Linked DNA regions of Homo sapiens. The protein of the gene in region 2 binds, or shares a complex with, the protein of the main gene of each other region. Each region holds a gene or a part of one and is shown on either strand. Other genes may lie near its edges.

Region 1 (7,456 bases), on a different chromosome or scaffold from region 2:
CAATTCCCGTAAGCATAGACATCTAACCCAGCCAAAGGAATGTGTGAGGAGCTACAATGCCAGTCTTTGTCAGAAAATATATTTATTATTGATAGTGAGTGAAGTAAAGATGTGAGTATTCACTATAGAGGTTTTATCAGCCAAGGTTGCCTTCATATTGATAAAAATACCTTATCTCACTTGTAATCATAAACATTATTCCAGTAGAAGAGGTACATTTTCTCTCCTTTTTGTCTTCTTGCCTGTATAATCACCATAATAAGTTATAATGAAATAGCTCTTACATAATCAAAGGAGAAAAGAAAGACAAAACCAACATGCCACAGCCTAGACAATTCCATCCAGCACTGCTGCCTCCAGATCTGTTTTCTGGCTCTCTCCACCCAGCACTGCTGCCCTCGGATCTATGTTTTCTGGCTCTCTCCTCGCCCCACTCCAATTAATTTAGCCCCCAACCCCATCCTACTTTGTTAGGGTGGAGGTTCACCAAATGATGGGGCTTGTTCAGAAGAGAAACATTTTATGGTCAGTGCAAGTTGAATAGAAAGTACCAAAAGGTGGAGAGGGCTGCCCTTCTCTTTTAATCATCATAAGAGGGTTTACTAATACTCAAGAGTGTCCTTTAATGACTGATCCCTGATCAAGGCTTTGGCCCTTCAAACTGCTGCTGTTCAAAACGTGAAATGATTCTGCTGAATCCATTCTTGATGTCTCTCTTTAGTGGTCTTCTCATTAGTGGTCTTCTCTTCAAATGGGTTGTTTTCTCACTAGGAAAAAAAATGTTCCATCTCTGGAATTAACGTTGATGGTGTTTTGCTCATTCTGAAAGTTTTTATCCTCCCTTCTCAAGCATGCTCTGCAAGAAAAACAGAAAGAGTAAGTTTTACCACCGGGAGAGGACAAAAAATAAATGGCACTAACTATTTAGTATGATTTGTGTTGCTTTTCAAATATCTAATTTTAAAAACACAGAAAACAAGGCATATGCTTCCTGTTCTCAAAATATTGCTCCTTTAATCAACACCATTGCTTTATCAATATGATCTTTAAATGACCCCTCTCACCACCACATGGGTTGAAAACCCCAACAAGGCCGGGCGCAGTAGCTCACGCCTGTAATCCTAGCACTTTGGGAGGCCAAAGTGGGCAGATCACTTGAGCCCAGAAGCTTGAAATCAGCCTGGGCAACACAATGAAACCCAATCTCTACCAAAAACAAAAACATTAGCTGGGCATGGTGGTGTGTGCCTGTAGTCTCAGTTACTCGAGACGCTGAGGTGGGAGGATCCCTTGAGCCTGGGAGGCAGAGGGTGCAGTGAGCCATGATCATGCCACTGTACTCCAGCTTGGGCAACAGTCTTTGCTGTCTCAAATAGAAAGCAAAAGTGCTCCTGGTAGGGGCATTTGGAAATGTTGGGAGCATGGCTGATGGATGCAGTGACCGGGGGAAAGCTATGGCCAAGGCAGTGCAGGGATCAAACCCCAACTCCAAAGGCTCTGAGAGGGAATCTCTTCATTAGAGAAACACAAGATTCCTTCCCAGAGGGGGAGAACGCAGATGTTCATGTGCTCATGAGGCTGGACAGAGCTACACAGATTGGTACCTATTCCCAGATTGCAGAAATGGTCCCTACATTCTATTTAGTTATTTATTTGGGAGATGAGGATGTAGATAGGAAGAATTCTTAACTATCAGATGAGAACTCTATAACCAGCTGAAATGGGGGTATACTGCCTTCATTTTTAGAGGTCTTTAAGAAGAAAAAAGTGATACTTTCCCCTCTAGTTTTGCAACCACTCAGAGAGGCAAGGTGAGGCCGAGGTTGCCTCTAGTTTATCCATTCCCACCTGCCTCCCGCCAACCCGCACCCTTCCAGCCATCTCTTCATTGAGCTCCTACCAGGTACCACTGCACTCAGTTTAGTGCATTGGGGAAACTAATACATACACCTGTGGAAAATTCAGGAATAATAAAAGGTAATAATTTGCTAATTTTTATTTATTTGCTAAATACATGCTAAAATTTATTGTGTAAACAGCATAACATTTAACAGGAACCAAATAGTATCTGGTAGAAAGTAATTTTTTCCTTCCGTTTCCCAGTTTCTGTGTCCCCTTCCAGAGATGGTCACAGTTCACAAGAGGAATGGTTCTGCCTGGTGCAGAGGGCAACCCTGTAGCTGGAGCGAGCAGGGAAGGCTTCTCCAAGGACCTTCCACCATGGAGAGAATCCAGGTGGAGGACTGGGGTGGGACTGGGAGGAGTGAGGGGAGAAAGCGGTGGCCAGGATTCAGCAGGGGAAGAAGCCTAGCACACACAGAATCCTGAGGGGAGAGGCCTAGCTGGAAGAAAGGGTACATGCTCAGGACTGACCAAGAGAAAGGGTGGAAAGAGGGCCCAGGACGGACGCCAGGCTGAGACATGTCCTGCTAGCCACAGAAAACATGGAGGAATGCTTTTACATAGGAGAATGGCATTTAGGAATGTTAACCTGACATCCTCAGCATGATGGATCCAACAGAGGGGAGTCTGCAGGCAGGAAGCCCAAGGAGGAGGCAGATTAGAAACCAGACAAAGGTGGAAACAAGAACTAGAGCTACATGGGAAGAAAAAGGGAGATGGTGACACCCAAGGTATGGGAGGATCCTTGGTGACAAAGACAGTGATGGGGCCACCAAGAGAAACAGGGAAGTCAGTGGGAGCCTGGGAAGGAGGAGGATGACTTAAATTTTGGGTTTGTGAGGCAATTTTGGGTGAGACATCCAAAATGGAAATGTCTAGAAGGACGCTGTAGGCCCTCTGAGGTCAAAGGTCTCTAGACACAACAATTTAGGGTCAAAAATTTAAAAATGATTGAAATTAAGGGGACAGAACAGAAAGAGTAGAAGTCAAACAAGATGGTGTATTGGGTCATAGGAGCAAAGGGTGGATAGATTATCCTAAAGTGTTCATCATTATAGGTTTCTAAGAAGTCTATGTCATAGGGCACAAAAGAACAGATATAAAGGCAGACAAACTTAGACATAACACACACAGTGGTGAGAAAAACAATGATTCTGTCATACAGGAGGTAAATTAGAAAAGCTAGATGCATTTAGGGAAAACAGGAAAAACAAAGTAGGTGCAGTGGAAGATTGCTCAGCAGAGAGTTGTCCTGTAAGAACTCATACTGGAATGTGAGGCACCAGCCCCATGTTCGCTGGGAAAATAACACGCTGAGCACCCACCATGTAAGAGACACCACCTGGCAGTGTCACAGCGTCACAGCATCTCAGCTATGCTCACCTGCTTATGAATTGATCTGTGTGAGCCTCTCCAATCACATAGATGATAAGTTCTATAAATTCCAGATATATAGACAACCTCACTACATCATGCTTTATTAAATACAAAATGGAAGCCAGTATCAAGCAGATCTATACTGAGCCTATCTAAGGGAATGCAGTTACTAGAGAAAGTGATCTCTTTATAAATGATGCCACTTAGCCATTTGCATTTGGGGGGGTTATAGATTCACTGCTTTCTTCAACACACTGATGGGAGCTTTGAGTTGTCATCTGCCTGGTCAAGATTACATAGCTGTACCCCTCTCTACAATTTTGGGCTTAGGGTTACAAGGATAACCACATGACAATGTACCTCCTTTCAAATATTGCAAAATAACCTGCAGCTGCCACAACTTAAGGAAAGCAACAGTTAAAGAGTGTTTTCACGAGTCTAGAGATTGTTTTTACTATTCTCTCTGCAACCTCAACCAAATATAGATGGGTAATTTTTCAGCCAAATCATATCATGCTAAGAATGTTAGGCTCTCTTTCAGAAAGAGACAAGATGGGGCCTGGCTGGTCTGAGGATGAGCAGGCCAGTCTCACATAAAGACACTAAAAGAAGTAACATTTTAATAACCCCTTTAGCCACATTCACAAAATACCGTTACATGTATTAAAATTCTAATCCTCCAAGATAGCACAGTGGTTCAGCTGATTTGTGGTGACTCCTTGAAGACATGTGGGACCACCACAGAAAAGCACCAGGGCTGATCTATAAACATTTTGTCAAACTGCACTCACTTGCTACCAAAGGGTGGCAGGGGTGGTACAAAACCATCTCAATTCTATCAGGGAAATTAACAAACACAATGGCAGGCTGGATTTTTAAAAAAGATGAATTCATCTGTCAAACATTTTGGGTTATTATTATATTCCAGCTATGCGACAAAACCTGCTCCAACTCAGAACTCAGGGCTTTTGGCTGGAGGGATCCGTAGTCTGGTGGGGTCTGTGTTATTCAGCTTTCACCTTATAGGTTCTACTGTCTCTGTATTGGTTCCGTAAGTACTGCTGTTGGGCTGAATTTCAACGCTGCATAAATTTAACACTGCATAAATTAACATAGGAAATTCCCTAAAGAATGAGGGAGAAGCTTTGCAAGTTATAAAAAATTGCTTCCTTCATTTAAGGAACTGCTAACACTTAATCTTAATGTGGAGAAAGAAATTCCTTGCTTTTGCTCATCATTCACGTATCTGGGCCTGCAGAAACTCCTTTTATAAACAGCTGGGTAAATCACCAAAAGAAGAGAGTGGTTCAGGCATGAACACTGCTCTTTTCCCAAGTCTTTTTCTCATTCCAGCCACTGAAGAACAACCGGCAGCTCACAAATAAGAACAGCGCCCCTGGAGACCTGAGATTGCGTGTCATTTCCGCTTATTAAAACCTTACTAACCATCCTAACCGCTTGCCTCAAATATTTCTGTTAAGCAGTAATCTCATCAACTGATTTTTGAATCACAGCTTTCTTGGAGGGGTTGACTATCATAGCAGCATGCCAGCTACTGGTTGTGTTGATAATTTAAGAGAAATGATGGCAACCCTGGGTTGCTAACCAATCATCATGAAGAGAAGAAAAGCGGTTTGTTTTTTAAGATACCACTCAGGGTGCTTGTCTCTGGATGAACTTACCCAGCGCCTCACCAAGACTTCAGGCCTCATAAAGCTGGGTAGAGAAGCAGGAAGGTCTACCTAACCAAGGAAAAATGAAACTGGAGATGTGTCCTGGCACAGACCTGGTCTTAAGACACGAGTTTTACTAAGGAGGGTCAGGAAAAGTGGGGAGTGGGAGACACTGGAGCTTCGATGAGGAAAAAGCCAGAATGAGAAGACTGTGCATAAGACAGGAAGGAAAAGTCATCTATAAATTGAATTTATGGGAAGCACAAAGCGAGTTTTGCCTGTGCACCAAGTACTGTTCTTCACTACCTGGAAATCTGATTAGATCACTTATTTTGTTTTCAATATGTGTCTATTCCCCTGCAGCAAGAGCTGTTTGTTCTTTGTTCCTCCTGCTTTGGAGGAAATAGAAGTTAACTTTTTTCTGCCTGGATCTTGTTTTATATCTTCTATGACAAATGCTCTGTATAATATTCAAATTAAGTTACAAGTAATTAACTGTTTATACAGCTGGCTGCAATAACAGACAAAACACTAACATACTGCAGTTCTAATTGAAGGATGACCATGGGAAAAGAAATACCTATTAAGAAAAATGAAAATCTATTACCATGGTAGTATTTCTTCTATTAAACTCAGATTTAAAAAAAGAGAAAATGTCACGAAGCAACGATTACTCTCAGAAAGTGGTTTAGAAAAGGATTCCTATGATGGAAGAGGTTGGGATAGGAAATTTAAAGTTTGGAATTTTGTTTGCTTTGATCTGACTCTAAATTCAAAGGGCTGCCCTACCAAAAAAATGGGAAATCTATTATGAAATACCCACGTGTCAGTCACCCTGTGACCAGCATCCCAGCTGGGCAATTAATAAATGTCATCAAGCGATAATGATAAAGCAGCTTTCGAACACAATAAAAACATGCTCCTGGGGGGCTTCCCAGAAAGTTAACCTTCTTGATTATCTTCGTGCTCTCTGAAAGTGGCCACCGTGTACATCGGGGGGACCCTGATGTGGGTCGGGGAGAGAAGCAGGGTGACTGGGAGCAGTAGAACCAAGGGAGGGTCTGGTCACAGCTGTGAGCTAGCCAGGGGACTGGGGTCACCTACTGTTTCAATGGGAGCAAGAGAAGAGGGGAAGGGGATCTCTTTTCAAGGCTTCCATCTGATTCCCACATCATCTTCCAATTTGTTCTTAAGGCTAAAGATTCATTCCTAGGGTTGGTCTGATGAGACCTCTGCCAGGTAGCTTTGACCTATAGGGAGTGATAGCTCCCCATCTCCCAAAAGATGGAAAACAAGGACTTGGCAGGACCTCTGAAAGGTCAAAGACCTTTAATGCAATTCAGGCCAATGGGCTCTAAGAGCAATGGTTTTCAAACTTTGGGTACAGAGTCTCCTGGGAAATTTGGTCAAAGTTCAGATGCCCAGGCCTCACCCCAGACCTTCTGAATCAGAATCTCCAGGGATGGGGATTGGGTGGGTACATTTTAAGCAAACCCCTCAGGGGATTCTGATGCTCACCCACATCTGAGATCTGACACGACAGGAAAAATACCCTGGTTTTGAATTTAAGAGTGGGCTGTTTGGTCTGGGTTCTGCCCTTCTACAGATCATTTAAATTCTCTGGAAGCTAATTTTGCACATGAAAAAAATGAGGTTGGGTTATATGATCTCTAGGGTCCTTTTAGCTCCAACAGCCTATAAGTCTATTAAATCATTTGCATCTAATGTAGAGTTCATCTGAAAACAATGATAACATACAGCTTGCTCTGGCAATAGGTTTTTCTTTCAAGAACCTTGATTTTTAAGCAAAAGCTACTACTATGTTTTCAGGACCCCTTCATACTCAAAATATGTCACAGACTTAGGAGCAGAATCCTGGTCTAATATAAATACAGTTCACCGGGGAGATGAAATTGTCCTTCAGAAGGCGGACAGAAATTGTGCCAGGGCAAATTCCTCCATATGCACTGATCTTGAGGCTTTGACTTAGGAAGCCAACCAAATACTGGAGATGTCAATGATATTTTAGAAACGAGACAACGGGGTGCACTAGCCTTAAGTTGGAGAGCTGTCACATTAGGATCTAGCCTCATTTACTGGGTCCTGACCCCAAGTTCCTCACTGTGGCCAGGTTCCTTTCTGATCTCTCCAAAGAGATCAGCAGGAAGCATGTAGGTCTGAGGTGGGGCTGTCTCATTTACAAGACGTCCTTATTGTGAGCTGAACTAACTGTTTGCGTGGCTACTGTCCCACTGCCTGCTTACTGACTGAAACTTCTGCTATGGTTTGGGGGACCCCTGACAGACTCATCATCTAACTGCAGGTCCCACACTGACCTCTGTCCCTTGGGCATCTCCTGGGGTTGGTCCTTGCCTCTGGTCCCAGTTTGCCCTTGGTTGTCAGGCTCCAGGTTCCTGGCTTCCTGCTCTGTTTTCAGAGTCACACTTCCCATGGTACTTCACAGGATGAAAGGCATCACGATCCAGGGGAGGCTTACGGCTGGC
Region 2 (8,058 bases):
CCTCACTTCTCAGCAATTATTAATATTTTATTCAATGTCTACTGATACTTTACTGAATTTCCTAAAGCACCTTTTCCAAGCCTATCCCATTCTTAAACTCCTAAAGGCATATTTTCCTCTCAGCAGATGACCTTCCACCCAGAAGATACAGACCTCCAATGTGAGCTCCCTCCTCTACCTCCTCCGTTCTTCAAAATCACTTGGTATCTTCACCTTCTATCTCGACCAACTCTGGCCTTTGAAGCAAAGTGTGTCTCCTCTTTGCAAGGTTAATCCCTCCACTTGTTCTCTTGATTTTACCACTTTCTTACAAAGTATGGTTAAGAGTCCAGGTTCAGGACTCATACCATGTGATTTCAGATCCAGCTCTACCACTTTACTCCTGTGTGACCTTGGAGTTACTTGACCTTTTTAAGCTTCTGTTTCCCTACCTGTAAAAAGTGATTAATATAAATTCCTACTCATAGGGCCAATGTGAAACATAAATGAGAGAATCCACATAAAGTGCTTAGCAAAATTCCTAGCACGTAGTCAATATTCAATAACACAATAGCTGTAAATACTATTATCTTTCCCTCTAGATACCTCCTGGTACATTTTCCCTTGTCTCCAAAGTAGCTCAAGTCTTCTGTCTCCTGTTTTGTTTTTAGTTTTTTTTTTTTTTAATTAAAAGACACCTTTTCTGGAATTTGCTACCCTCATTCCAAGATTTTGTTCCTTCTTTTCACCACCAAACTTCTCTAAAGAGTAATGTATAACTCCTTTCCAGAGGAAGCAAGGAGGAGTGGAAAGACTTTGGAGATAAATATACTGTTTGAACCTAGTTCTTCCACTTAGTGGTTGTATGACCTGGAGCAAGCAGTTTTTCTAAGCCTCCGTTTTTCCATCTGTAAAATGGATATATTACCCATTTCTTAGGGTCATCAAGAGGATTAAACTAAAATAATATATGTAAATCATCTGGCCAAAGTGGGTGCTAAATGAATGCCAGTTCTCCATCCCTTATTCTTTTCTTAACCCCATACAATCTTGGTTGTTCCTCTACCACTCTATTTATCTCTTTAGCTCACTTCAGCTCTTATTAGCATGGTTTTGAATAATCTGACTTCTCTAAACCTTAATTTTCATGTGTAAAATGGTAATAATACCCACCACATAAAGTTGTCTTGAGAATTAGTGAATTAACACATGTAACGTGTTTTAGCATAGTGCCTGGCCTGGAGTAAGCACTTAATAAATGATAACAGCAGCAACTTATTAATGGTGAAATCAAAGGACTGTTCAACTCTCTTCTTCTCAATGAAAACACACTATTCTGGTTTGCTTTTTGCCACTGACCATTCCTTCTGTCTCTGCACCTTCTCCATGAAGCCTCTTTTTACTCTCTTCAAACCAAGTGTGAGCTCTCTCCTTTTGAGCGTCAGAGCACTTTGTACTTCTCTTCAGGTAAGAAACTCCCCTTACTCTGAATCACAGTCATTTGTGTTATATGTGTTATATCTCCACCACTTAATCTCTTCTGTCCTCATTGCCTGGCACTTTATTCATGTAGAACATGTTGACTACCTAATATACATCAGACCTGTGCTAGGTACTACGGATACAAAGGTTAATATAATTACTGTCTTCAAGGAGCTTATAGTTTAGGTAGCTAGAACAGACAAGTAAGTAGTCTATATGTGCAGTGGAATAAATGCTTGGTTAAGAGTGTGCCCAGAGTCCTCTGGGAGCACAAACAAGAGTTATTAAAATAGACTGGCGAGGACCGGGCGTGGTGGCTCACGCCTGTAATCCCAGTACTTTGGGAGGCCCGGGGGGGGGGGGGGGTGAATCACGAGGTCAGGAGTTCGAGACCAGCGTGACCAACATGGTGAAACCCCGTCTCTACTAAAAAATAAAAATAAAAAAATTTAGCCGGGCATGGTTGGCATGCGCCTGTAGTCCCAGCTACTCAGGAGACTGAGGCAGGAGAATCGCCTGAACCCGGGAGGTGGAGGTTGCAGTGAGCTGAGATCGCGCCACTGCACTCAAGCCTGGGAGACAGAGAGAGACTCCGTCTCAAAAATAAAAAATAAAATAAAATAAAATAGACTGGGGAGATCAAGGACACTATTAAACAAGGCATTTTTGTGTTTTGCATATGGGGAGGCTGTACACAAATAGCTGCTGAATGAATGAATGAACTATAAATACAACTAGATAAGCATGGGAAAAGGCACTTTAGGCCCAGAGAAAGAGCACGTAAAAAAGCATGGCGGGGTCAAGCAAGCAGCTCAGTATCGACAGGAGGAGGGTTCCTGAGTGACAAGAGATGAGGCTGGAAAGTCTAGGTAAAATCAGATGTTCTAGACATAAGAGTATGGCCTGACCCCAGAGGGGAGATGATGACATGCCCATAAAATTTTTTAAATGCGGGGGGAGGCAAAAATCAAATTTGCATTTTGGTAGATGTACTCTGGCAACACAGAGGAAAACAGATTACATGAGAGCCAGGCTTGAGGTGGCAAGTTCAGGTAGGAGGTTGTTCAAATAACTCAGATGAAGTATGAGAACCAGAACTGTAGACGCTGCCGACTTAAAACTTCAGCGGAACTGAATTATTCATACTGTATCTCCTGCAAGCCTAACAGAATATTTTACAATTAAAACCCGCTACGTAAATATCTGTAGACTACCATTATTAAACACTACTTAGGGAACTGCAGCAAGCTGCCAGCTGAGTCACTCACTGTACACGGACTCCCAAGTAAAGGCACCTTTCCCAAGCGTAAAACTCGAAAGGAACAGGTTATTCGAGCACAGAAAGCAACAACACTATGTGTAAACCAGCGCACTGCTGAAAGACTATGGGACCTCTCTATCCTGGTCAGTTTCACCCCAAATGTTTCAACAAAGTCCTTCCATAGGGTCATGTGGCCTTGCCCTGTGCGCCGAGACAAATGCCAAGTTTATATATATATTTTTCTCTTTATTGCAGCTGAAGACCGAAACGTCTACTGCGGCTCGTCGCCTGGCCAGCCATTTTCACCCAGCCGTTTCCCAGTTTTGTACTGTGCCACTGTGTAAATCGACAACCACAGGGGATTGAGGGAGCAGCGTCCCAGGCTGATAAAACCCTAATGGGGAAAGGCAGGTGTCTTGAGGCTTCAAACGATAAAGATTGCAATTATCTCAAAACCCACCTCCACCCTGCCCCTTGTTTCAGGGCTCCTTCAGAAGTTAGTAGGATCCCTTTTACAGTTACCGGGATGCTATCGGCACCCACAGAAATTAAGCAAGTTGGTTTTCGCTTACCCTGATGGCCGCCATGTCTACAACCCTTTCGGCCAAGGTTTTCAGACGGAGAGCAGAGAGGGACAAATCAGTTCGACTAGGCTTCCCTTAGGACAGCCCCACCCCGTTACGCCCCTTGCCTGCCAGTTACCGCCTTTTCTCCGCCCTCCTCCAGCCGCCTTGGCAACTGCTGCGGTTTCGGTCAGCTGTCTTCTGGAGAAACTGTTCACCCCTGTGGTTGACCCTCCCGGTCCCAGATAAAGCCTTCCAGAACATTATCAATAGTCCAGTTGGGAGTTATTTTCCTGGGTGCAGAACTTTTAATTATTTTGTTTCGGGCATATGTGATATGTCCAGATAAGGACTTAATACCCAAATGTAGCTGCTTTAATAATTAATTATATAGTAAGAAAAACAACTTATTACCTCTGCGAAACATGGGTAAGTTCATTCATTCTAAAACTAAGTCACGGAGAGCATACTCTGTGCCGGGCAGTTGTTCGGGGCATAGACAAAACATAGTGGCTTCCTCACAGAGCTTATGATTACAGGAGTAAAAGAGACAAATGAGGCCGGCGCGGTGGCTCACGCCTGTAATCCTGGCACTTTGGGAGGCCGAGACGGGCGGATCACGAGGTCAGGAGATCGAGACCATCCTGGCTAACACGGTGAAACTCCGTCTCTACTAAAAGTACAAAAAAAATTAGCCGGGCGTAGTAGCGGGCGCCTGCAGTCCCAGCTACTCGGGAGGCTGAGGCAGGAGACTGGCGTGAACCCGGGAGGCGGAGCTTGCAGTAAGCGGAGATCGCGCCACTGCACTTCAGCCTGGGCGACAGAGCGAGACTCCGTCTCAAAAAAATAAATAAATAAATAAAAATAAATAATAAATTTTAAAAAAGAGACAAATGCTATGAAGGAAAATAAAACAGTATGGGAATGAGGTGGGAGTTTACTGGTTTATATCAATGAGAGAAAGACTCTGATAAGCTCATTTGATAAAAGTCCTGGAGGAATTTAGAGAAGAGGGTTGCATACGGAAGGAACAGCAATGAAAAAGTCCAGTGAGGCTGGAGCAATAATTTCAGAGGTAGCGAAGTAACACAGTGTAGGGGCTTTCGTGCCGCCAAAATAAATTTGGATTTTATGCTGAATAAGATGGGAAATCATTGGAGGATTTTGAGCAAAGGTGTGATGTGATCTAATTTACATTTTTAAAGGATGATTTTGGTGCTATCAGGAGAATATACTAAGGGTATATTGCAATATTCACAACAGGAGCAAGGTCTGCTGTAGGCCTCCCTGAAGGATTCTGAGGAAAGAAGATGCTCATAATATGCCCATTAACAGTCCCAATATTAATTCATGTATTCATTCATTCAATCAACAAATATTTATTATGTGCAAACTATATACTAGGCATTAGTTGATACCTATCACATTTCATACCCAAAACAGATCCTTTTTAACAGAACTGTCCTGTAAATGACAAAATTATTTTAAGAAATAATGATGAAATGAAACTAATAATACTGGCTACAAAAGAAACATTGAGTGACTATTTTCTTTTATTGAACTTAATATAAACATATACATACATATATATGCCAATATAAAAATAAAATGCAAAATAAATAGTACAGAACCAAAAAAGGAAAAAAATGGATCAAGGTGTTTTAATTGCATTAATGTATTTTTCAAAGGAAAAATACTTATATCTACATAGTGGTCTGCCACAGGAATGAATAATAATATTACAGTTTCTGTTTTTGAGCCTTAACCTCTGTGTATTTGTCAATAATTTCATCCAAATTTAACATTTCTGCATATTAAATAAATGGTATACCTAGATTTGTCAAGCTAACTTTGTTCATAACTGATTGATGCACACTTTTTATTGATTTTAATATCAGTCAGGTTTATTTCACAATAATCAACAGGCAAATAAGAAAAGTCTTAAAATTGTGAATAAGCTTAGAATAAATTTATAACAATCTTATTTCCCAAAAATTTCAGGAATTTCAATAACACCCATGTTTTGTTGTTGTAGTTGTTGTTGTTGCTTCTTTTCCAACTTTAACTTTTATTTTGGGTTTGGGTACATGTGCCGGTTTGTTATACAGGAAAATTGCATGTCAAGTGGGTTTGACATACAGATTATTTCCTCACCCAGGTAATAAGCATAGCACTTGATAGGTAGTTTTTCAATCCTCACATTCCTTCCACCTTCCACCGTCAAGTAGGCCCCAGTGTCTATTGTTTCCATCTTTATGTCTATGCATACTCACCATTTAGTTCCCACTTATAAGTCAGAACCTGCAGTATTTGGTTTTCTGTTCCTGCACTAGTTCACTGAGGATAATGGCTTCCAGCTCCACCCATGGTGCTGCCAAGGATATGATCTTATTCTTTTTTATGTTTTTGATGGCTGCATAGTATTCCATGGTATATATGTATCACATTTTCTTTATCCAGTCTACTGTTGATGGGCATTTAGGTTGAGTCAATGTCTTTGCTAGTGAGAATAGTGCTGTAATGAGCAGACCCATGCATGTGTCTTTATAGTAGAATGACTTATATTCCTTTGGGTATATACCCAATAATGGACTCCCTATTCAATAAATGGTGCTGGGAAAACTGGTGAGCCATAGGCAGAAGACTGAAACTGGACCCCTTCCTTATACTATAATAAAAAATTAACTCAAGATAGATTAAAGACTTAAATGTAAAACTCAAAACTATAAAAACCCTGAAAGACAACCTAGGCAATGCCATTCTGGACACAGGAACTAGCAAAGATTTCATGACAAAGACACCAAAATCATTGCAACAAAAGCAAAAACTGACAAATGGGATCTAATTAAACTAAAGAGCTTCTGCACAGCAAAAGAAACCATCAATAAACAGATAGCCTACAGAATGGGAGAAAATAATATCCAGCTTCTGTAAGGAATTTAAACAAATTTACAAGAAAATCAAACAACCCCATTAAAAAGTGGGCAAAGGACATGAACAGACACTTCTCAAAAGGAGATATACATGCGGCCAACAAGCATATGAAAAAAAGTTAAATATCAGTGATCATTAGAGAAATGTAAATCAAAATCACAATGAGATACCATCTCACACCAGTCAGAATGGCTATTATTAAAAAGTCAAAAAAATAACAGATGCTGGTGAGGTTGCAGAGAAAAGGGAACACTAATACACTGTTGGTGGGAGTGTAAATTAGTTCAACGATTATAGAAAGCAGTGTGGCAATTCCTCAAAGAGCTAGAAACAGAAATACCATTCAACTGAGCAATCCCATTACCGAGTAAATACACAAAAGAATGTAAATGGTTCTATCATGAAGACACATACACACATATGTTTATTGCAGCACTATTCCCAATAACAGACATGGAATCAACGTAAATGCCCAATCACTATAGACTGGGTAAAGAAAATGTGGTACATATATGCCATGAAATACTACACAGCCAAAAAAAGAATGATATCATGTCCTTTGAAGCAACATAGATGGAGCTGGAGGCCTTTATTTTAAACTAATGCAGGAACAGAAAACCAAATATCACATGCTCTCACTTATAAGCGGGAGCCAAATGATGAGAGCATGTGAACATAAAGAGGGGAACAACAGACATTGGGGCCCACTTGAGGGTAGAGGGTGGGAGGAGGGAGAGGGTCAGAAAAAATAACTATTTGGTGCTAGGCTTAGTACCTGGGTGATGAAATAATCTGTACAACAAACCCCTATAACACAATTTTACCTATATAACAAACCTGCACATGTACCCAAGAACCTAAAATAAAAGTTTTTAAAAAAGTAAATAAATAAAAACAATATTAACTTTTTCAATCCAAAAATAGAAAAAAATTCATAATTTCCTTACACTCATCTTTTCCTATATGAACAATCAAGAATAAATCAATGGAATGCATTCAATGCTTTTATGACCTTATCCACAAATATGGAAGCTTATGACTGGCATGTTTTTGTCAACTAAATGCTTTGACTTTACGTAAGAATGATCTATAGGACATGGAACTATTGTGTATGAGAATAAAAAGAAGTGTAATTCTCAGAATATGTCTATGTGATGTCCCAATTAGTGGCAGAAATATTTAAAAAGTCAGAAAAAATATATACTGGGCTTGAGGCAATGAACAACACAGACACAATCCCTGGTCCCAGGGAGCTTAAGTATATTTTGACTAAGACAGTAAATAAATTAAGATTATTTTAAATGCTGATAAATACTACAGAGAGTGACTATAGTATTTAGTCTCTGGTTTGGGGTGAAAGTTACTTTAGATTGGGAATACCTCTTGAAGGAGCAGATGTTTCAGCAGTCTTGAGTAAAACGTGAGTCTACTCATGTTAATGTTTGAGCACTCCAAGCAGAAGGAACAACTAATGCAAAGACCGTGAGGTGAGAATAAACTTACTGGAGCACCATAAGTAAGGCAGAAAGTGATAGAAGAGTCTGGCAGGAACCAGATCTATATAAAGAATTTGGATTTTCTTTTAGGTTATTTATTCTTAAATATTCCTTGATTTATTATTGTAAGTTTATCAATTGCCACTAATTGCTTTGGGCACAAAAGGCAGCTTTGTATAATGGAAAGTATTAGCATCAAAATAAAATCTTGGCCTCTAAAGGCAGAATCTTGAAGGAGCTGAGCCAGACCAGATGTTCCAAAAGTTAGTGTATTTGGGAATCACCTGCATAATTTGATAAAATGAGAATTCCTGGATCCCACCCTTGGATATTGGTATTTATT
Region 3 (7,456 bases), on a different chromosome or scaffold from region 2:
ACACACAGGGCACCACCCAAGTGCCTGGGTGCTGGGGCTCCGAGGGAGTCAGGTTGAATATGCCGTCTCCAAATGCACACACACTGCCAAGGCAGCACGTGGGGAGAGCAGGCAGGCCTCTGGCACTGCCATTGCTCAGTCTCTGGTTTCTTTGCTAGTCATGTCAGGGGTAGGGGCCGGGAAGGAGGGAGCCAGACCTGGCAGTGTCCCAGAGCCTCTCTCAGGGAATACACTGGGGTTTAATGTGATCTGTCTTCCTTGGTAATCACATTTTTGCCTTGGTGCGAGGAAGATATATTGGTGAGGTGTGTTTGTTAAAGAAATACTCTTAGGGGTGGTGGGTAGGGGCTGAAAACTACCACAGAGGTGGGGCTGGATGGAGAGAGGATGGAGTCTAGGGCTGGCCACTGAGGCGTAGGCCCTGCCAGGAAGCCAAGAGGCTGCAGCAGATCCCTCGGTAAAGAGTTAGGTGTGTGATGAACAGAGACTCGGAGCTGCCCTTGATTGGGTGTGTGGAGGATCTGGAGGCTTCACTTTGCTGGTGAGTAGGGAGCTAAGTGTCTGGTCGGTGCGAAGGGCCCTGGTCTGGCCCAGCCTACCCAGTGCCCCAGCGCCTCCTGCCCACGTGGAAGCAGAGTGAGCAGCCTTCCATCCTCTGAGATGGAGGAGGAGGCCGCCTGTCCTACCCAGGGCTTCCCTCTCTTGGAAGGCTGACAGAGGCCTTGCGACCACTCATCCTGTGTGGAGCTACTTCTGGGCTGTGTTCTGGCCATGAAGGGACAGTCGGTGCTGGACGGGGCTGTGACCAGCAAAGAGTGGAACAATCAGCCTTGGCAGATGGGTGTGAGCAGGGCATGACCCAAGGAAGCTCTTGCAGGCCTGGGGCTGCAGGACCCCGCTCAGTTCAGTGGGACAGATCTCCCCTTGGACATGGCTGGAGAGCACAGAGCATCTGGCCTCAGCCTTTTCCATCCCAAGTACCTAAAGCAGCCTGTCTCCTACTCAGGCCAAAGAGGCTTTTACGTGGGAAAGGAGACCTCGTCCTGTTGTTTCTCCCATACATTTTCACAAACAGGCCGCACTCCTTGGGGAGCCCAAACTAGGTGTTCTGAGAGTGAATGATGCTCCCCAAGGTGGGAGCTGTCCTGTTGGGGTGGGGCAAGGGTGAGGTATGGCTGGGAACAGCCTGACTGCACCAGAGGACGCTACGGGACCTGGGAAGGGGGAGGACTTATCTAGGATAGAGAGCAGCAGTTGGGGGTGGGGGAGGAAGGCAGTAGGAGCTGGCTGGGAGCGCATCACAGGCATCCAGGACAACCGAGGCCCACTGGAGTGGGAGGTGACCAGAGAGCACATGAGGCTTGGGACCACTCACCAGGAAGGCCAAGCCAGCACACCCCTGTAGACCAGCTCAGGGCAGGGTGGCTGTGAGCAGCTTCTGATGGCCACATCTGCTCCCACTCCTCTTCCAGATGGCCTATCCTTGCTGGGACCCCCACTCTGCACTCGGGCCTCTGCCACCCTCCCACCCCTAAGTGCCGAGGGCTAAGAAGTCCCCGGCACCCACAAGGGGCCCGGCCCTTGAAGGTGGGGCCTGACTTTACCCAGCCTGCTCCCACCCAGCCTAATAGGGCAAACGCAACAGGGATCATCTCCCTGGGGCCAGATGTCCAAGGCGCTCCTGGAAGCAGCCAGGAGAGTGTGCAGGTGACTGAGGAAAGCGAAGAATCCCTCCCTTGGCAAATGCAGAGACCTCCAAGTGGAGCATCTGATTCTAACAGGAAAAGGCAGGCAGAGATCTCCAATGCTAGATAGAGGTACCTCGCCTACCTCCCAAGGCCCTTGGAAACCTGGGAGGCAGGCAAGGCCTTACCTTGTGGGCGGCGCTCACGCAGCGCTGGTATGCCTTGACCAGGTCCGAGCACAGCAGCACCTCATGCGGGCGATCTCGGTAGCAGTGGAGAATCTGGGCCTGCAACCCTGAGCAGACGGGCTCCACCCTGCGGGGCCTGCAGAAGACAAGAGCAGGCAGGCCTGGGGCTCAGGTGCCAGCAGGCAGGGGAGAGAAACAACTCACATTCACTCCACCTACCTCCCAGGCGCTAGGCTAAGTCCCTGACACCCAGCAGCATCCTTTTAACCCTCAAGGAGAAGCACTGTGCTTTCCCGTTCTAGAAATGAGAGGACGGTCGCAGGGTCAAGCCCTGTGGTGGGTGGCTTAGGCTCACAATATAGCAGACACTGAAACATGCTGTGGTATGGGGCTCCACACCGGGCTCCTTCACTGGGGCCTGTGTACACTCAGGAGACAGGAAAGCCCCACTGGAGGGCCCCCATGAGGATGGTGCAGCCCGCCTCCAGGACAACCCGCCCCGCTGTGCCCAGGATAGCCATCCCTTTATGCCTGAGACAGCCCGCCCCACTGTGCCCAGGATAGCCGTCAGCTGCTTTCCTGGGCTTTCCTGTGCCTGTGGTTTACCCGTGACTATAACCATGTGACTTATTTTTTTTCCTGATTTAAAACTAATATGCGTGCAATAAGGAAAATGAAATCTACAGAAATGTCTAAAGAAATGAAAAATGTTCTTTTTACTTCTTAGAGGTAACCATTATAATATTTTGGGGGTAATTTACTATTTTTTTCTTTCTTTTTCAAAGTAGTTTTAGAACCCACAAAAGTGAGTAAGTTCACTTTCTAAAGTTGTGGAAAAAAAGAGCAAATATAGATAAACTAAAGTCAGTCACTGGCCCAGCCTCCTGAGCGTAATTTTGGATTGGTTGGTCTCCTTCCAGATTTCTCTCTCTCTCTCTCTCTCTCTCTCTCGTGCGCACACTGACACACACAACAGCACATTCGTGCACTCCCTGCCAGCCAGGTGCTGTCCTCCGGCTGCTGGGCGTGCTCAGTGCTGCTCCTTACAGCTCTGGTAGCAGACACTATCGTTCATCATGCTGTTCACACAAATGAGGAAACTGAGGCTCAGAGAATTAAGGCCATGCAGCTGGACAGTGGAGGAGCGGGACATATTTATTTACATGGCTTTGGATGTACTGTTGCTGCTCATTTGTTTTCTTAAGTGGGTTTTAGGCCAGGACCCTTCCCAGCTGTAGACGGACCCACTGTAACACTTAACAGCCTTTCCAAATTGAACACCACTCACGGCTGAGGGCACCAAAAAGAGCTGTAAAAATGTAGAAAGCCATTCCTCAAGTTTCTTAGCAATAGAAAGGATCACTGTCACACATGCCACAGCTCCACTCCAGGTACGTGGAGAGAGAGATATGTAGGTCAGTTGCTCTCCCACCAGGGTCTCCAGAGCCGTTATCATCTAACGATAACTTGAACACAGTTCCTCAGCTAGAAACCACCAGCACCAGGATGCTCGACAGCTTGGGAACAGGACCCCATATTTAGCTGTCTTGCTCTGGAAGTCTGCGGGTGGACACTTCTGTACACTGCTGACTTAGCAGTGATGCCACCTGGGTCTGGTCTTCCCTTCTCGTCCATGTCATCCCCAGGCCACTGTATGCAGCGCAGTCCTCTCTGCAGCAGAGGTCAAAGGGAGCAGGGAGGAGCAGGTCTCTCTGCTGTCTCATCTGACTACGCGGGACAATGCTCCCCTCAAACCCCACTCCAGGTTTCTCCTCCACTCACTGTCTAGGACCAGGTCACATACCCATGCCTAACACCATCGCTAACATGAGCAGTGAGTGTCCCATGTTCAGCTAAGGCCAGCAAGACCCATCCCCAGGGCATGAACAAAACGAACAGTCCCTAAATTAAAGACGGGGAGGGATGAGTGTGGGGTGGGGTGCAGCCGCCTGTGACTGCCATGCCACACCAGCGCCAAGGTAAAGGATGTGAAGGGAGAGCACGCCTTCCCCTTCCTGCCAGGGGAGGCCATGGTGGCCCAGCCCTGGCCTGGGTCCTTGAATTCCACCCCATCCTAGCCATTGAGGTCACAATTCTGACTCAAGTCTGCATTGCATGCACCAAGTCTTAAAGGGTCCTCTTATTTCCTGAAGAGGACTGGGTGGGGGGGGTTTTATCTGCATTGACTTCTCGTTCTTACATATGCAGGGCAGATGAGCCCCTGGTGTGCAGTCCTCTGCCCAGCTCCGGAGACCCGCTTCACTGGCCTGCGTCAGCTGCCGCACAGGCGGCTGGGGCAAGAATACAGCTGGGGTGTCTGGGGCAGCCCCTGATTTGTCTCCAGGTGCTTAAGCACGGCTCCACATCTGTATTTAAGAACTGTGACATGGGTGTGTCTAGTTGTGGGCTTTTTAGGCTGCTTCTTCCTTGGGGGACGGCTGGCCTCATGGCATTTCGTCTCAGGCAGGTGTTCTCAGGGACTGCACATACAGCTTTGGTTCTGAGTGTTCTGACACCTGTTTTAGGAGCACTTTCAAGTCACAGGCCAGGCTCTCTGCCTCCATCGCAGAGGCCTCCCCTCCTGTTCTGCTCCCTGAGTCTCCAGCCTTAGAAGGCTGTGCTCTCCCCTCCCCAGGCAGGGTTAAATCTGCAGGGCAGTGGGTGCCTTCAGTGGCACTGCCAGTCTCCCTGGGCTCTCTCTTGTCACCTATACTGCTGTCCCCTCATACCAGCCTCTTGCTGTGTCTTCTGTTCCTCCTGACGGTGCTGGCCCTCTAGAGTCTGAGACCCCAGAGCATGACTTCCATCATAGCCTCTGCTGCACTCCCCTGAAGCAGGACCCCACCCTGCCCTCATGGGGCCCTGGTGAGCCTGGTTCCTGGCTGCACCGTGGAGGCCAGCAGGCACTGAGGGGACCTGTGTGTCATGGTGAGTGGCTCAGGGGAAGCCCCAGGCTTAGTCAGGGCAGAGCTGTCCTAAGCTGTAACTCTGTGAGGCTTACTGATCTATGTGAAAAGAGGTACCATAGACAGGACAGGCGGAGGCTAAGTGGCCCCAGCCTGAGTCATGTGGCTGAGCCTCATGGAGCTGGAGGGCTGACCTGCTGAGCCCTGCCCTCTACAGAGGCACAACAGAGACGCCGACACTTTGCAGAATGGCGATGTGCAGGAAGACACAGCCACATTTGCCCCTCTCCCCATGGTCAGCCTGGCTGTGTCCCCTCCTCACTGGCTTCTCCTACTTTAGTTTCAGGTCCCAGGACAAGGGCCTCTGCATTTTGAGGGCAAACCTCGCAGTGGGCTCCCAGTTTAGGAGAAACTGGGCCATGGCGAAATCTATCCCCTCCTTGCCAGTATCGCCCGTGGGACCATGACAGCCTCTCTCTCCTGGGACTTATCAGAACAATATGAGGAGACAGAATGGAAGGCAAATGTCAACTGGAAGAAATTTCACCCATTTGTCCACAAAAAGGCTCTGAATGGGATAAGACAGGGAGAGCATAGCTCTGGAAATGAAAAGCTTTCTCTGAAGCAAGGCAGGGCTAGGCCTTCGGTGAAGCCATTCACAAAAGTAGGTGCACTCTATCCACCCTGAACCCCTCCCAGCCCTGGCACACCATGACCCTGTTTACAATGCATACAAAACAGCTCCCATGTTCAGAAACATGGTCTTGCAAACAGCTACTCTTCACATGCACAGATAAAGGTATCCAAAGTGTGCCACAAACTTGCCAGGGATAGAAATAAGTCCTGTACCCCTGTGTAAGGACATTTCCTTGGAGAATGAAGATCTAATGGTCCATGTGGCTTCGAAGGGGTTCACACCATTCGCATTGGTGTATGGGGTGTCTGTTTGCACAGGCATCAAAGACAATGCCCAGGAAGTTGGCTCACCTCACTGGCTCTTATGTTCCTCATTGGTACAATGGGAACAGTAACACCGCTTGCCCCATAGAAGAACAGAATTGCATGCTGTGAAGTGCAGCTCTCATAGCAACCTAGCCATCAGTGTGAGAAACCGAGGTGGGGCCAGGGTCTGGAGTGGGGTGAGCTTGCAGAAAGGCTGGGTTACTGGAGGCACTTGGCAGAGAAGAGCTGAGGATATGCTGGGGTGGTGGAACTGCCAACGTAGGGCTTGGAGGGTGGGACCTTACCTTAAAGGGTCCCTCCCTCTACAGCGTAAGCTCTGATATCATTCGAGACCTAGTTCAGACCTCGCCCAGCCTCAGTGGTGCCTCCTCCTCAGGCATGTTAGGGCATTAGCGAGTCTGCATAATCATGGTGTCTCTTCAACAAGGAGCTGGCAGATGTCTGAGGCTGGGACTCTTGGTCTAGTGGAAAGAACACAGGTTCTGGGATCAGACAAACCTGGGGCAAGGCGCTGGCTTTGTCACTTTCCACTGTGTGGTCGGTGCATCAGGTATGGGGGAGGACCCCACCCCACAGAGCTGTTGAGAGGATGGCAGGAGAATGGCAGGTGATGCCCAAGACGGCCCGGTCAGAACATGCTCAGTAACGCAGTGTGGCCCTGAAGGAATCATTGGCATTCAGTAAATAGGACCACAGAAGACCCCACATCCAGCCTCCTGATGGCCCTGAGAATGTGATGGCCACAGACAAGGCACATGGGTCCTGGTCCCTGGCAAGCAGGCCGCATAGGTCTGCCTGACTCCCAGAGCCCCCACCCTGTCGGCTGAGACCACAGACACAGCAGAGTCCAGAGGCCCCATGTGGTTCCTTCCCAACCCCTGTGCCTGAGCGGGCCTCTCCCACTGACCACCTCTCCTGGACCTTCTCCATTCCCCGCACTCCATCCAAAACACATTCATCTCTCAAAATATGGAAAAGCTTTTCAAATCGAAACCCCCTTTTGCCTCCATCTCCGTCCCAGGCCACAGCAGCTTCTCCTTGCTTAGAGAGGTGCTGCCTGGGGCTCCCCCTGCCCCACTCCCCTGGGCCCCATGCCGAGCCTCACTGCTCAGCTGACGGCACCTGCCTGGCCCTCACTGCCTCTCTGGCCACTTACTCTGGTTCTCTTCTGCTGGACCCTGGGCCTCTGCCTGTGTGCGAGCTCCACCTGTGGCCCCTGCCCTTGTCCCCTCAGCACACCAGCATGGTGCCCAGCTCAAGACCTGCTGTCCCCTGCCTGCCATGCAGCCCAGCAGGTGGCCATGGGCCCACATGGACCAGATGTGGCTAGCCCTCATCCCAACATCTCCTCCTCCTGAATTTCAGTTGGGTCGGCAGCACCAACACCCAGCTGGTCCAGCTGCACACCCAGAGCACCCAACTTCTCCAGCCCCCATGCCCACAGAGCACTCCCAAGTCTAGCCTACAGGAGAGCCCTAGCCCATGCCCTTGTTTTCACTGTCATTAAATAGCCTCCCAACGGTCCTCTCTACTTCCAGCAACAGTGATGCTTTCAGAACATAATGCAGGCCACAGATTTCTAAAACACCAAGGCAGTTCAAAAACTCATTCTTAGGTAATCACAACTCACTGCACAATGTGCGAAGCATTACCTCATTTAATCCCAAGCAGGCCCACATAAGGTAGAAGCTCTGTTTTTCCTTAAAACAAAACA

Evidence for each region.
Region 1: APOOL (region 2) and CHCHD3 share a complex: the UniProt entries of both Homo sapiens proteins name them as parts of the mitochondrial contact site and cristae organizing system (MICOS) complex.
Region 3: APOOL (region 2) and CHCHD6 share a complex: the UniProt entries of both Homo sapiens proteins name them as parts of the mitochondrial contact site and cristae organizing system (MICOS) complex.

Annotation. Positions count from the first base shown.
Region 1 is NC_000007.14:132,784,805-132,792,260, forward strand, and holds the end of CHCHD3 (MICOS complex subunit MIC19), read right to left. Parts: intron 857-7,456; coding exon 833-856; 3' UTR 66-832; downstream 1-65. UniProt on the Homo sapiens protein: Component of the MICOS complex, a large protein complex of the mitochondrial inner membrane that plays crucial roles in the maintenance of crista junctions, inner membrane architecture, and formation of contact sites to the outer membrane.
Region 2 is NC_000023.11:84,999,164-85,007,221, reverse strand, and holds the start of APOOL (MICOS complex subunit MIC27 precursor), read right to left. Parts: upstream 3,346-8,058; 5' UTR 3,310-3,345; coding exon 3,295-3,309; intron 1-3,294. UniProt on the Homo sapiens protein: Component of the MICOS complex, a large protein complex of the mitochondrial inner membrane that plays crucial roles in the maintenance of crista junctions, inner membrane architecture, and formation of contact sites to the outer membrane.
Region 3 is NC_000003.12:126,951,969-126,959,424, reverse strand, and holds part of CHCHD6 (MICOS complex subunit MIC25), read right to left. Parts: intron 2,010-7,456; coding exon 1,874-2,009; intron 1-1,873. UniProt on the Homo sapiens protein: Component of the MICOS complex, a large protein complex of the mitochondrial inner membrane that plays crucial roles in the maintenance of crista junctions, inner membrane architecture, and formation of contact sites to the outer membrane.